4 linked regions of the Homo sapiens genome follow. Changing the gene in region 1 together with any one later gene gives a genetic interaction. Each region holds a gene or a part of one and is shown on either strand. Other genes may lie near its edges.

Region 1 (3,979 bases):
AACCTCTTCCCTTCTCCACTTCTCACCTCCCTGTTCATGGGTGTGCCCTGAGCTCAGGCCTAGAATGACTTCTCCATCTCCAATTACTCCCTAGCCGAGTACATCCAGTCTCTTTGCTTTCAGTACCATCTACAGGCTGAGGACTCCCAAATATTCATTCTTCAGCCCAGACCTCTCCCCTGAACTCTTGATCTACATTTTCTACTTTCTATGCAACATCTGCACCTGATTATCTGAGCGGCATCTCCATTCTAACATGTCCCAAACAGAAGTCCTAATCTCTCCCCACTCTCACCTCCCCAAATCTAGTCTCTAGACATCCTCATCTCAGTGCATGGCAAACCCATCCTGTCAGTTGCTCAGGCCAAAAGCCTTGGCATAATAACCCTTTACGAGGTTCTCTCTCGCAAACCCTTCATTTAATCCACCAGCATATTCTGTAGGCTCTGCCTTCAAGATCACTGCTCACCACCTCTACTACTACCACCTGGTCAAACCATTATTCTCTCTCCCTTGAGTTTTTTCCAACAGCCTCCCAATGGCCTCCCCACTTCCACCCTTACCCTGTCATGGTCCATTCTTAACACTGAGGCCGGCAATCTCATTAACAAATCAGATGTGTTGATCCTCAGTTCAGAAGACCCCCATGGCTCCCAACTCAATCAAAACAATGCAAACTCCTAACCTGCATAGACAGGCCTATTGAAGTCTCACAGAACATGGACCCTAACTACCTCTCTGACTTCATCTCCTCTTCTTGTCAACCGTGTACCAGCCACACAAGGCTTTCTTTCTGCAAATAAGTCCCCTGCCATAAGCATTTGCACTTCTTGCTCCCTTTATTACGCTTTTCCCCCAGGTGTGTAGTTCAGTCTTTCATTTCACTGAGGTTTCTTTTTTTTTTTTTTTGAGATAGAGTTTGCTCTTGTTGCCCAGGCTGGAGTGCAATGGCGCAATCTCGGCTCACCCGCAACCTCCACCTCCTGGGTTCAAGCAATTCTCCTGCCTCAGCCTCCAGAGTAGCTGGGATTACAGACATGCACCACCACGCCCAGCTGATTTTGTATTTTTAGTAGAGACAGGGTTTCTCTATGTTGGTAGGGCTGGTCTGGAACTCCCGACCTCAGGTGATCCACCCACCTCGGCCTCCGAAAATGCTGGGATTACGGGCATGAGCCACCGCGCCCGGCCTTCACTGAAGTTTCTTATCAAATATCCCCGCACTCTGGCCTGGGCAATGGAGTGAGACCCTGTCTCAAAAAAAAAAATTAAGATTACCATTTTACAATTAAGCAAATAATTCCATGATGAAGCCAGGCCCAGACTACAGGCTGCAGCCCTTATAAAAAAACAGTGGGTAAGTAAAAGTTGATAAACAGCAACAAGGAAATGCACACTTGTGTTAATCAAATATTTAATTTCACACATGCTCTAATGCTTTACTTCCCTTACAATTCTAAGTAGCAGTCTAATGAGATCACATAGGCCTAACAACATTTATTCAACATTCTTCTGACAGAAGCTACAGGCATTTGCTCCAATTTATTCTACCTTTCTTTCTAGGGAAATTGAATAACAAGCAGAATGGAATAAGATTCTAATCCAGAATTCTGGAGACAACGCCAAGGAGACTGCCCTTCAGGTGACTCTAATCTGCAACCAGATTGAAGAACCAGATGACTTTCACAGGATCCATTCAGTTCAAACCAGAAGTCCTACTATTTTGAATAGAAAAGCTGTTAGGCTAATAGCGCAGGAGGTTTATACGGTTTATTCCTTCCTCCCTCAGACCTGTGCATGTCTGCAGAGATGAAGGGAAGGACGAACTGAGTAGGTTGCTGAAAAACGTTTAATTCAAGGGACAAGGAAGGTTACGGAAGAGGAAGAGACATTACGAGAGTTAAGGACAGTGGCTACGTCTACCTCAGCCGGATGGTTCTTAGAAATGGAGACTCTGAGGCCTAACCCCAGGTCTAAAAAAACAGATTCTGCATTTTAACGTCCCCAGACGATTTGTATGCACCGGTCTGCATCCCTAGTTCTCAATGAAACCTAAGAATCATCTGGAGAGTTTGTTAATAACTAGACACCTGGGTCCTACCCCTCAGAGATTCTGATTTACCGGGCTCTCGGTGGAGCTATATGTTTAACAAGCACTGCAAGTTATCCCGGTACAACTGCTCCAAGGTCTACGGTCTGAGAAGTACGGACCGGGAAGGCCTCTGCAAGGAGGTTCTCATTCATCAATTCACCCACTCATCCAGCCAGGACAAGGGCCTTCTTAGGCTATTCTATCTAAAGCGGCCCCCGTTAAACCGCACTCCTGCTTTTCCTCTGTAACACCCACCCCAGCTGCAAGTTCTCCGTACGCTTACCGTCTGTCTCCCCACCCACTAGAACGTGAACTCCAACACAGCAGAGACCTTCTGTGCTTTTCTTACCCAGGTGATCTCGGAGGACAAAATCCAATCTGAAGCCCACCCACCCCTCCCGCGCATGTCAACACCACTCAACAAACCCCTTGTACCTCTAGCTGTAATAAGTAACAAGCAGTATCCTACAGGGCGCCTCGGTGCCCAGGAGCGGATGCAAAGGCGCTGGGCGGGCACAAGGCAGCGCCAAGGACACTCAGGGACGGAGGAACCGACAGGGGACTTGACGCTCCGCCACTCCGACCAGCCGCCCCTTGTCCCCGCCGTCCTCGTCCGCCACTGAGATATCCCCCACGGTCTACCCACCCGTCGGCTCCCACCTGCGACCCAAGGACCCAAGTCTTCCAAGAGCTCAGCCGTTAGAATTCAAAGGTTCTTCTTTTTAAATAGGAGTTAAACCCTCTAGCTAGAAAGCCGATTGGCCTGCGCTCGAGCGAGGCTGCCTTGTGATTGGTTGACAACAAACCCGACGCCTTGAGTCGCGTTTAAGGGCGCACACCGCGCGCAGGCGCACTTGCTCCCTAAGAACCCGGAAGTGGTGGAGCCAACGGCCAGCCAGACCTGTGGCAGTCCCAGCCCCAGGGTGCTCTCCGCGGTCGGCCATTTATCGGTGAAGCAACAGCCCCTTGACGTCAAGCTTGACGCATTGGAGATAAAGTCCAAGGAGGTGAACTAACCTTTGAACGTGCCAGTAAGTAAGATGGCGAGAAAAGCAAGAGAGAGTGGGACCGATCGATAGCGCAGCGGTCGGCTTGGCGCCCTTTCAGCGTGCGCAGTGAACGTGCGCTCGGAGCGGTAGATTGGGCAGGATTCGCGCCTCCATTTTTCCAGGAGAGAGCGGGATACCAAGAGAACCGGACCAGCTGGTACTGGGACACGGGGAGAGTAGCTGGTGCGGTCGGCTGGGGCATTTAGAGAAAACCACAGAAACGACTGGGGCGAGACTGGAAGAGTCGAGAGTTAGCAAGGTGGCATGCGCCTCTACTTTGCGTTTCCTAAGTTGCCCGGCTTGGCCTGCACCCCTTCCTCTTCTCGAAGGGCCTCGCTTCCATTCCCACCCAGTCCTTAGTTCGCCTCTGCATCCAGATGGTCGCGGCGCATATAGTGAGGGGGCATCTGTGTTCTAGCCTTTCCAACTGCGATGTATCCGGTCCTGGATCGGGTTCTTGTCCTCGTGTGCTCACCTGCAAATTGGGGATAATTAGGCTTCTGTTTACCTGGCGAGTGAACGTTCTGTGGGAGTTGAGAAGTTAGGGGTGGGCCACTTAAAATATATATATATATACACACACACACACATATACATATATATACACACACATATGTGTGTGTGTGTGTGTGTATGTACACCCGGGATGTGCTCAGCAGAAGTGAAGAGACCGGATAGAACAGTGGTGTAGGGGAACCAAAAATGGCTTCCCTCCATCCTTCCAGGTACCTTATTAGGACTAAGAGTTAAATTCACATAAGACGAATTAACAGATTACTGCAGGGTAAACAGGATGTGCATGTAAAGCATTGAGCTAGCATACGGAAATTATTCGAGT
Region 2 (2,277 bases), on another chromosome or scaffold:
AGAGCCCAGCCCTCCCTTCACCCTGAGCTGCAGAGGGGCGGCTGTGAGCTGCTTCCCCATCCTTGTCTAGAAGCATGGCTTCCAGCACAGCAAGGGGGAGAACTCATCAGAGTGGCAATGGCTACCTACGTATCTACCTACATGCCTGCCTACCTACCTAATCTAGCTATGCATCCACGGGACAGGGTCTCACTGTCGCCCAGGCTGGTGTGCAGTGGCGCAATCTGCTCACTGCAGTTTCAACCTCCCCAGGCTCAAGGGATCCTCCCGCCTTAGCCTCCTGTAGCTAGGACCACAGGCACTTGCCACTGCGGCCGGCTGGCTCCTTCTTAAAAACTGTTGGAATACATGTTCTCTTAGGCAGCAAAGCCATAGAAAATCAAGAATATTGCTTTACAGTAACGGTGTTATGTTTATGAAAGCTAACAGAACTGCATCCACATCAGGCACCTCCAACTGAAATGAGCTAAGAACGCTCTCAGGCTGTATCAGCCCCCTCACCTGGGGCCTGTGTTTCAGGACCCCCACGGCAGGGCTGCAACCTCAGACAGCCACTATGGATACTATGTTTTTTTCCTATACCTATGATAAAGTTTATAGATTAGGTGCAGCAAGATATTAACAAAATACAACAATTATACTGTAATAAAAGTTACGCTGATGGGCTACTATTAAGTAAAACAAGGGTTCTGTGAACAGAAGCTCTTGGATACCCACAGCGTATCTGATACCTAGACGGCTACTGGGTGACCAACAGGCAGGTACCGTAGACAGCGTCAGCTTTCATCCCACTGCTTAGAAGAATGGTGTACAATTTAAAACTTAGGAAGTGTTTATGTCTGGAATTTTCCATTTAATATTTTCAGACCGAGGGGGACTGTGGGTAATAAACCATGGAAGGCAAACCCACGGATGGAGGCACTACCGTGTTCTGCCAAAATATGCTGGCTGAAGCCAGGGTTTACTGAAGGCAGAATGCTTCCTGTTTCGGCTGCTGGCCCTAATCCTCGCGCCAGAAAGGACATTGCTGGGTGTGGCTAAGTGCCCAAGGAGTGAAAAGAAGCACACAGAACAACTTTTGTCTAAAATTCACTGCAGTAGAAGAAAATGACACTGATAATCATGAGTAGAAGACTAAAACGACGTGTGCATCCCAATGTGTGAACTAGAGCAAAACTCACCTGTAAGAGTAAAGGGTGAAAATCCCATTGTGGCTGAGTTTTGCGCCTCCACCATAAGCACCGCCTTTTTCTCGAATTTCTGTATGCAAGAATTTGGCAGTCATCAAACGTGCAAGGATTTTAAGACTGAAATGATTAAAAAATGCAAGTTAATACCGTGGCTGATAAAAAAGCATAGACAATGAAGTAATTGTTGGATTAAGTGAAAATGAAAATCGAGTTGTAAAATAATGCTGCATAAATTATGGTCCCATATTTTGGTCTTGTTTTTTAAGAGATGGGGTCTCGCTCTGTCGCCAGGCTGGAGTGCATTAGTGCAATCACAGCTCACTGCAGCTTTGAACTCCTGGGCTCAAGGGATCCTCCCACAACAGCCTCCTGAGTAGCTGGGCCTACAGGTGTGTGCCACCACGCCTGACTATTTTTACAGTTTTTGTAGAGGCAGGGTCTAGCTTTGTTGCCCAGGCTGGTCTCAAACACCTGGCTTCAAGTGATCCTCCTGCCTTCAAAGTGCTGAGCTTACAGGCATGAGATTTTCTTTTCAATTAACCAAAACTAAAAAGCACAAGGAAGCACAATTTTCAAACAGTTGGCTTAGATTACAGGGTTGAAGGGAGAGGTGGTGGGGAGGGAATCTTAACACTTCCAGCACCACACTGCTTAACTTGTTCCAATGCACATGTGGCATTTTTAAAATCTCGTGAAGTAGAAAGAGGTTATTTCTATTATAAAGGCAAATGAGCAAATGAACATTTATTTAAATGTCTCACATCAGAATATGGAAAGAAAGGAAACTGAAGTGAGTTTTATAAGAATCCCTTAAGAAAACACACACTCTCTGATAAAGCACATTTCTAGGAACAGGGCCAATTTCCTCTGCCTTCCACTGTGAACGGTAACATCACATTCAAGCTGATTCTAGAACACATCCACCTCCGACAGAAGGCGGGGCAGACAATGATGGGAGGGTCTGCAGCACAGACACAGGCTCCTTGAAGACGCCCGTGGTGAGATCAGCCCCAGGTCGCCGCTTCCACAGACAGGCCTTTTCCTAAAGTGGATGAAGGGAGTCAAATAGGCCAGGTGGGAAATCAAG
Region 3 (3,500 bases), on another chromosome or scaffold:
CTGAGCGGGTAAGGCAGAGCCTTTCTTTGCAGACTGTCCTGTGGGCTTCTCAGCACATGGCTTCCTTTCCTCAGGGCCAGGTCTTAGCCATGGGGCTTGGATTAGGCTCTCTAAACATGTGTTCTAGTGCTCTCTGAGCCACTGACTTGTTAGAAGTCACAGTAAAGGCGGGTATTATTTATGCCAGCTCATCATTGTGCACCAGGGACTGTTCTAAGCTTTTAACTTACACATTAATTGATTTAACCCTCCAAACACTCTCATGAAGCGGTTGTTCCTGACCTGGTTTTAAAATGATTCTGTGGCCTGGTGGGATCGAGTACCATAGCCAGAGTCACGGAGCCAGTAAGAGGTGTCACTGCGGTTCAGATTCAGGTCTAACCCCACAGCCTGGACTCCTCATCACTACCCAGTATTGCCTCTGTGTGCATCTGGTTGTGTTCCTCAGCTGCTTGGGCTGTGGCTTCTTCGTTTCTAAAGCGGAAAGTCTAATCCCGGCCTCCTGCTCACTTTGTGGGGTGTGATTAGAGCATGGATGAATGGCGTGGTACCCGTGGAGTACTCAGGTTCTTCCATGGAAAGGTCTGGGAGACCCCAGCATCATTATGTTGGCTCCTAAGAATATGTATCACTTACTGGCATCCAGATAATAGCTACATTGTTTAGACATCAAATAATGCCATGGCCTGTACCTCTGTTAAGTCCAGGCTTTGACTCCTGGGGTCTGGTGCTCTCAGAGGCATTTGGATCCTCACTGACTACACCGGTCTTGACTGTGGCTTATAGCTGTATATCCAGGTGTTCTTGAAGAAGGATGACTCAGTGGGCTACCGGGCTTTGGTGCAGACAGAGGATCATCTGCTACTTTTCCTGCAGCAGTTGGGTAAGTAGACCTCATTCAACCCATTTTTTTATTTCCCCAGGCCTTCCAATGTGTTCCAATCAGACTGTTTTTTGGGAGGCTGCAGGTTTCTGGAAGAGATTCAAGTGGAGTGTGCCCTGAGTGTTTCGTTCATAGCCAAATGTCACCTGCTTTTTTTTTTTTTTTTTTTTTTTTGAGATAGAGTCTTGCTCTCTTGCCCAGGCTGGAGTGCAGTGGCATGATCTCGGCCCACTGCAATCTCCACCTTTCGGATTCAAGCGATTCTCCTGCCTCAGCCTCCTGAGTAGCTGGGATTACAGGCGTGTGCCACCACGACCAGCTAATTTTTGTATTTTCAGTAGAGACAGGGTTTCCCCATGTTGGCCAGGCTGGTCTCGAATTCCTGACCTCAAGTGATCCGCCTGCCTCGGCCTCCCAAAGTGCTGGGATTACAGGTGTGAGCCACCGTGCCTGGCCTGTCACCTGCTTTTTTTTTTTTTTTTGAGACGGAGTTTTGCTCTTGTTGCTCAGACTGCTGGAGTACAGTGGCATGATCTCAGCTCACTGCAACCTCTGCCTCCCAGGTTTAAGTGATTCTCCTGCCTCAGCCTCCCAAGTAGCTGGGATTACAGGCATGCACCACCACGCCTGGCTAATTTTGTATTTTTAGTAGAGATGGGGTTTCACCATGTTTGTCAGGCTGGTCTCAAACTCCTGACCTCAGGTGATCCACCTGCCTCGGCCTCCCAAAGTGCTGGGATTACAGGTGTGAGCCACCGTGCCTGGCTCTTTTTTTCTTTTTTGAGACAGAGTTTTGCTCTTGTTGCCCAGGCTGGAGTGGAATGGTGTAATCTCAGCTCTTTGCAACTTCTGCCTCCTGGTTCAAGCGATTCTCCTGCCTCAGCCTCCTGAGTAGCTGGGATTATAGGCGCTAATTTTGTATTTTTAGTAAGAGACAGGGTTTCACCATGTTGGCCCAGGCTGGTCTCAAGCTCCTAACCTCAGGTGATCTGCCCGCCTTGGCCTCCCAAAGTGCTGGGATTACAGGCATGAGCCACTATGCCCGGCCCCGTTACCTGCTTTTGAAGAATAACTTGGCATTCTCGGTGGGATACAGAACTTTCCTCCTTTGACCTATTGATTCCAGCCCCTTGCTCTGCCATTTCTCCTTTTATGCAAGAGCTTGTAGTAATCCCTGAGTCAGCGAGAAGAGTCTCTCTAGAAAATCTGGGAGACAGGCTTAGCTTTTGTTTATTTATTTATTTATTTTTTGAGACAAGGTCTCACTGTTGCCCAGTCTGGAGTACAGTGGCGTGATCATAGCTCACTGCAGCCTCAATCTCCCGGGCTCAAGTGATCTTCCTATCTCAGCCTCCTAAGTAGCTGTGACTACAGGCGCTCGCCACCATGCTTGGCTAATTTTTTGATATTTATTTATTTTTATTTTATTTTATTTTATTTCAAGACGGAGTCTCGCTGTGTCGCCCAGGCTGGAGTGCAATGGCACAATCTCGGCTCACTGCAACCTCCACCTCCCGGGTTCACGCCATTCTCCTGCCTCAGCCTCCCGAGTAGCTGGAACTACAGGCGCCCACCATCATGCCTGGCTAATTTTTTGTATTTTTAGTAGAGAGGGGTTTCACCATGTTAGCCAGGATGGTCTCGATCTCCTGACCTCGTGATCTGCCCGCCTTGGCCTCCCAAAGTGCTGGGATTACAGGCGTGAGCCACTGTGCCCAGCCCTGATATTTATTTTTTGTTGAGATAAGGTTTTGCCCTGTTGTCCAGGCTGGTCTCAAATTCCTGGGCTCAAGAGATTCACCCACCTTGGCCTCCCAAAGTGCTGGGATTACAGGCATGAGCCACTGTGCCCAGCCCCAGGCTTAGCTTTGTAAAAATGTTTCCTGTAGCAGGGAAGGTGGTGCTGTGGAGCCGTGAGGAGTCCCTGGCAGAAGTGGTGTGCCTAGAGATGGTGGACCTCCCCCTGACTGGGGCACAGGCCGAGCTGGAAGGAGAATTTGGCAAAAAGGCAGGTATGAACCTAAGAGGTTGGAGCTGCAGAGTTGCTGGAGGGGCCAGTCTGGAAATGACCACAAGAGACACTGTATCATGCATCTCTGGCTTCCTAGGCTGGGCAGATTGCTAGTCTTTTCTGAATGAGCTCTGTGATGAGGTTCCGGTGCATTCATGGCCATATGGTTTATGAAACCATTCTTTTCTGTGAAAGAATGAACTGTGAATCCTTCTAGGGAAAGCTAGGGAAAAATCCCTCTAGGGAAAGCTGAGGGAAAAAAGTCTTTTTTTTTTTCTTTTTTTGAGACAAGAGTCTCGCTCTGTCACCCAGGCTGGAGTGCAGTGGCGCGATCTTGGCTCACTGCAACCTCTGCCTCCCAGGTTCAAGCAGCTCTCCTGCCTCAGCCTCCTGAGTAGCTGGGATTACAGGCATGCGCCACCATGCCCGGTTAATTTTTGTATTTTTAGTAGCAACAGGGTTTCAGCATGTTGGTCAGGCTGGTCTCAAACTCCTGACCTCATGATCTGCCAGCTTTGGCCTCCCAAAGTGTTGGGGATTACAGGCGTGAGCTGCTGCGCCTGGGGGGAATAAAGTCTTAACTTGGTATTGTAATAGCTACCATTG
Region 4 (3,500 bases), on another chromosome or scaffold:
ATCCTCGTACTGGACGCTTTCCGTCGGAATGTCCTCCATAGGAAGGGGCTCCACATTGATGTCGTGGAGCTCCACAATATCTGCCGGGATCTCCAGGTCTTGTGTGATGGAGAAATCTTCGTTGGAGGCCATGGCTGAGAGTTAGTTAGGTTAGCGGCAACGGGAAGACCGTGGGAAAAAGAACGCTGAGGGGAGTGAGGTGGGAGCTGCAGAGGAAGGGGCGAGCTGCAGAGGAAGGGGCGAGCTGCAGAGAAAGGCGCGAGCTGCAGAGAAAGGCGCGAGCTGCAGAGAAAGGCGCGAGCTGCAGAGAAAGGCGCGAGCTGCAGAGAAAGGCGCGAGACTGAGGAAAGCACGAGCCGGAAGGCGCAGGTGCTTCTGGGATAGCCAGACGCATGCGCCTAGGCAACTGGCGCGTCTGTCGGCCCCAAAAGCACGTGCACGTGCCCGCGTACGTTTGCCACCCTGCGACCCCGCCCAGCTGTTGTTTTTCCACTTTCGTAAGCAGGCTCTTTACTGATTTTTTATGTATTTCATTTTAGTTGATTTTCATGTCTTCCCCTCCTGTCCATCCCATATAACAGTATCTGCCAAAAAAGCCTACTCCTTTTATGCTTTTTTCTCTTATTTAATTGCACTAATACGACATTTAATATCAGTAATAGTTGATAGTAGAATTTGTCTTGTCCTTTAATAGGAATGCAAAGTGTTGTGCTATTATGATGTATGCAGCTATTCCTACTTTTACTAAGGATTTTTTTTTTTTTTTGAGACGGAGTCTCGCTCCGTCGCCCAGGCTGGAGTGCAGTGGCGCGCGATCTCGGCTCACTGCAACCTCCGCCTCCTGGGTTCGAGTGATTCTCCTGCTTCAGCCTCCAGAGTAGCTGGGCCGGGCACAGCAATCCCACACCTGTAATCCCAGCACTTTGGGAGGCCGAGGCAGGAGGGTCACTTGAGGTCAGGAGTTTGAGACCAGCCTAGCCAACATGGCAAAACCCCTTCTCTACTAAAAATACAAAAATTAGCTGGGCGTGGTGGCTCGTGCCTGTAATCCTAGCTACTCGGGAGGCTGAGGCAGGAGAATCGCTTCAACCTGGGAGGCAGAGGTTGCAGTGAGCCTAGATCATGCCGCTGCACTACAGCCTGGGCAACACAGCGAGACTCCATCTCAAAAGAAAAAGGGCGTTCTTTATCAACTTTCTTAATTTCTCCCATTGTAATTATTTGCCTATTTAGATTTTTTTGATTGCCTCTTGGGTTAATTTCAGCTATTTTTATTTTCTTATATTTATACAGGGTTTTGAAATTTTTTTTGTGGAGATGAGCAAACAACACTTATAATTGTTTTTATTTTCTCTGTTATCAATTGTCATTCCCCAATCTGATTGCTAATTGTCTTTAGATGCTTTTTCTCATTGTTCGACCTTTGATTTTTTTTTAAGAGCTCTTGGATTTAGCAGATCTAGTTTTGTTTTTTCTAATTTATTATTTTCTGCCTATATCCTTACTAATTACGTCATCATTTCTTAATTATTTTACAGTTCTTTTCTCACTTAAGTTTAATACTCAACTAATCTATTTCCATTTGTATTTGCATGACTGCCTAAGGCAGTGCATTTTTCTTTTAGCAAAACTTTAAACATTATCTCAGTAAAATGATTTCATCATCATAATTTTTAGATCTACTGAAATCACAGGTTTGAATTAAATTGATCCAAGGTGTGATTAAGATAAATTTCTAAATTTCAGGTAGTTTTTACTTAGTTTGCTAGTCTTCTCTTGGGAATTTACTGTGACTTTAAGTCCCATGGGCACTTGAAAAAATATTGTCTTCTGTGTTCACGGTATAGAGTTTGACATACCTATTTTTACCTTAGCCTAACTTTTTTATACTTATCTGCCATGTATTAAAGCGTGAGTCTTTTTATTACCTGTTTCTTCTTATACTTTTCCCATTTTTGTTTTGCTTTGATGGTTTGTTACTTGATACAGTAAGATTCACAACTGTTATATTTTCATTGTGGCTTATATTCCTTATTATTGTTAAATGGCCCCCAATGTCTAATATAATGCTTTTGGTCTTATTTTCTGTTCCCATTTGCATGTTATGTTCTGCTCATCATTTTACTTTCATTATTTTTGAGTAATTATTTACACAGATTTATTTTGTACATCACATATTTGGGACATGTTTTAAATACAAACTAAGGGCATCTTTCTTTCAGTAGGTGAGCTTATTTCATTTATGTTTATTGACAAAATAAATGTGTTTTGGTCTTAAATTCATTACCATGGTTTATCTTTTGATATAGGGTCTGTTTTCTTTGGTCTGTGTTTCATGCTTTCACTGTGATAACTTGAAAAGTTTATGTGTGTTTTTAGATCTTGTAGTATTTACATTTATAATCTTAAGTGATATACTCAAGCCTCTATTTCTTGATTTATCAGGTTCAGGCAGATGTCCTCTCCACTATGAAGTTGAGGAAATTAGTATTTATATTTCCCGTTTTTGTTTTTCCCACCTTCAGGTTTTTTTTGTTGTTGTTGTCGTTGTTAGTTTGAGAATTCTAACTCCACACTTGCTTAGCCTCAGTTATTCCATTAAAAGTGATGCAGGGTTGTGATGGATTTGTCGTATGTCAGTTTCACTCAGCTGGAACTGTGGTTCCATCTCCAAGGGATTCTGTTTCTCTGATTGAACTCTGACAGTGCTAGAGTTCACTACTCATCCTTTCATAACCCTTTTTTTCCATTCCTGGATACTTTTGATTTATCTCTTAGTCAATTCTTCATATTCTCCCTTGATTTGATGCAAATTTCATTCTATTTCAGCTGAGTTGACATTCTTCATAGTTTGTGATTTCATGTTGTGGACAAAACAAAGTTTTCCTCTGTTTTTAAATTTTTTAAAATTATGTTGTTTTTAGTTGGTTTTAAGGAAGCAACTGGAATGTAAATTATTTTACTCCTCTACTTTTGAAGGGGTCTTATAAACTGAAGTTATTAACCAAAAGATAAGATATTGTCATTTGTGATATATTTTCCAAAAAGCACTAACCATAGAAAATCAAAACCAAAACCACAGATGAATATTAAAACAAAATTAAGTCTGTTACCTGCACAAAATATCCTTAGCTGCTGGACTGGCGATATAAGTTGCAAATGAGTGGTGAACAGATCAACAAATGCTCCAGGATAAATAATGAAGAGAAAAATCCCAAAGCCATTAAATCGAACTTGTTCCCTAAGAAATCACATAAGAAAAAGGAGTTTACTAATACTATTATATTTATCAAATTAATAGTGTACATAATCTTAAAACTTTTCACTGTAATTTGAATTCTTGCTTAAAAAACAGAAAGTCTCTCTGAACAGCCAAAAAAATTATATCTATACTATATATAATCTTAATTTTATAATAATGTACAGATTTGGTTATCTGTGAAATTGAATTTTGCAAAATAGGGCATACTGAAATAGACATAACTTCAAAATTTTTAGAA

The links. Genes that interact genetically often act in the same process or in processes that back each other up.
Region 2: changes in AURKA (region 1) and PITRM1 together harm fitness more than expected from each alone (negative genetic interaction), as found in Homo sapiens cells (one large-scale study listed by BioGRID).
Region 3: changes in AURKA (region 1) and EMC1 together harm fitness more than expected from each alone (negative genetic interaction), as found in Homo sapiens cells (one large-scale study listed by BioGRID).
Region 4: changes in AURKA (region 1) and MBTPS2 together harm fitness more than expected from each alone (negative genetic interaction), as found in Homo sapiens cells (one large-scale study listed by BioGRID).

What each region holds. Positions count from the first base shown.
Region 1 is NC_000020.11:56,389,416-56,393,394, forward strand, and holds the start of AURKA (aurora kinase A), read right to left. Parts: upstream 2,801-3,979; 5' UTR 2,753-2,800; exon of another isoform or gene 2,376-2,752; intron 1,251-2,375; exon of another isoform or gene 1,141-1,250; intron 1-1,140. UniProt on the Homo sapiens protein: Mitotic serine/threonine kinase that contributes to the regulation of cell cycle progression.
Region 2 is NC_000010.11:3,139,506-3,141,782, forward strand, and holds part of PITRM1 (presequence protease, mitochondrial isoform 2 precursor), read right to left. Parts: intron 2,265-2,277; exon of another isoform or gene 2,096-2,264; intron 1,308-2,095; coding exon 1,182-1,307; intron 1-1,181. UniProt on the Homo sapiens protein: Metalloendopeptidase of the mitochondrial matrix that functions in peptide cleavage and degradation rather than in protein processing. Has an ATP-independent activity. Specifically cleaves peptides in the range of 5 to 65 residues.
Region 3 is NC_000001.11:19,234,525-19,238,024, reverse strand, and holds part of EMC1 (ER membrane protein complex subunit 1 isoform 1 precursor), read left to right. Parts: coding exon 1-8; intron 9-786; coding exon 787-883; intron 884-2,772; coding exon 2,773-2,895; intron 2,896-3,500. UniProt on the Homo sapiens protein: Part of the endoplasmic reticulum membrane protein complex (EMC) that enables the energy-independent insertion into endoplasmic reticulum membranes of newly synthesized membrane proteins.
Region 4 is NC_000023.11:21,853,117-21,856,616, reverse strand, and holds part of MBTPS2 (membrane-bound transcription factor site-2 protease), read right to left. Parts: intron 3,242-3,500; coding exon 3,114-3,241; intron 631-3,113; exon of another isoform or gene 133-630; coding exon of another isoform or gene 1-132. Other genes in the region: transcription factor YY2, read right to left, coding at 1-132. UniProt on the Homo sapiens protein: Zinc metalloprotease that mediates intramembrane proteolysis of proteins such as ATF6, ATF6B, SREBF1/SREBP1 and SREBF2/SREBP2.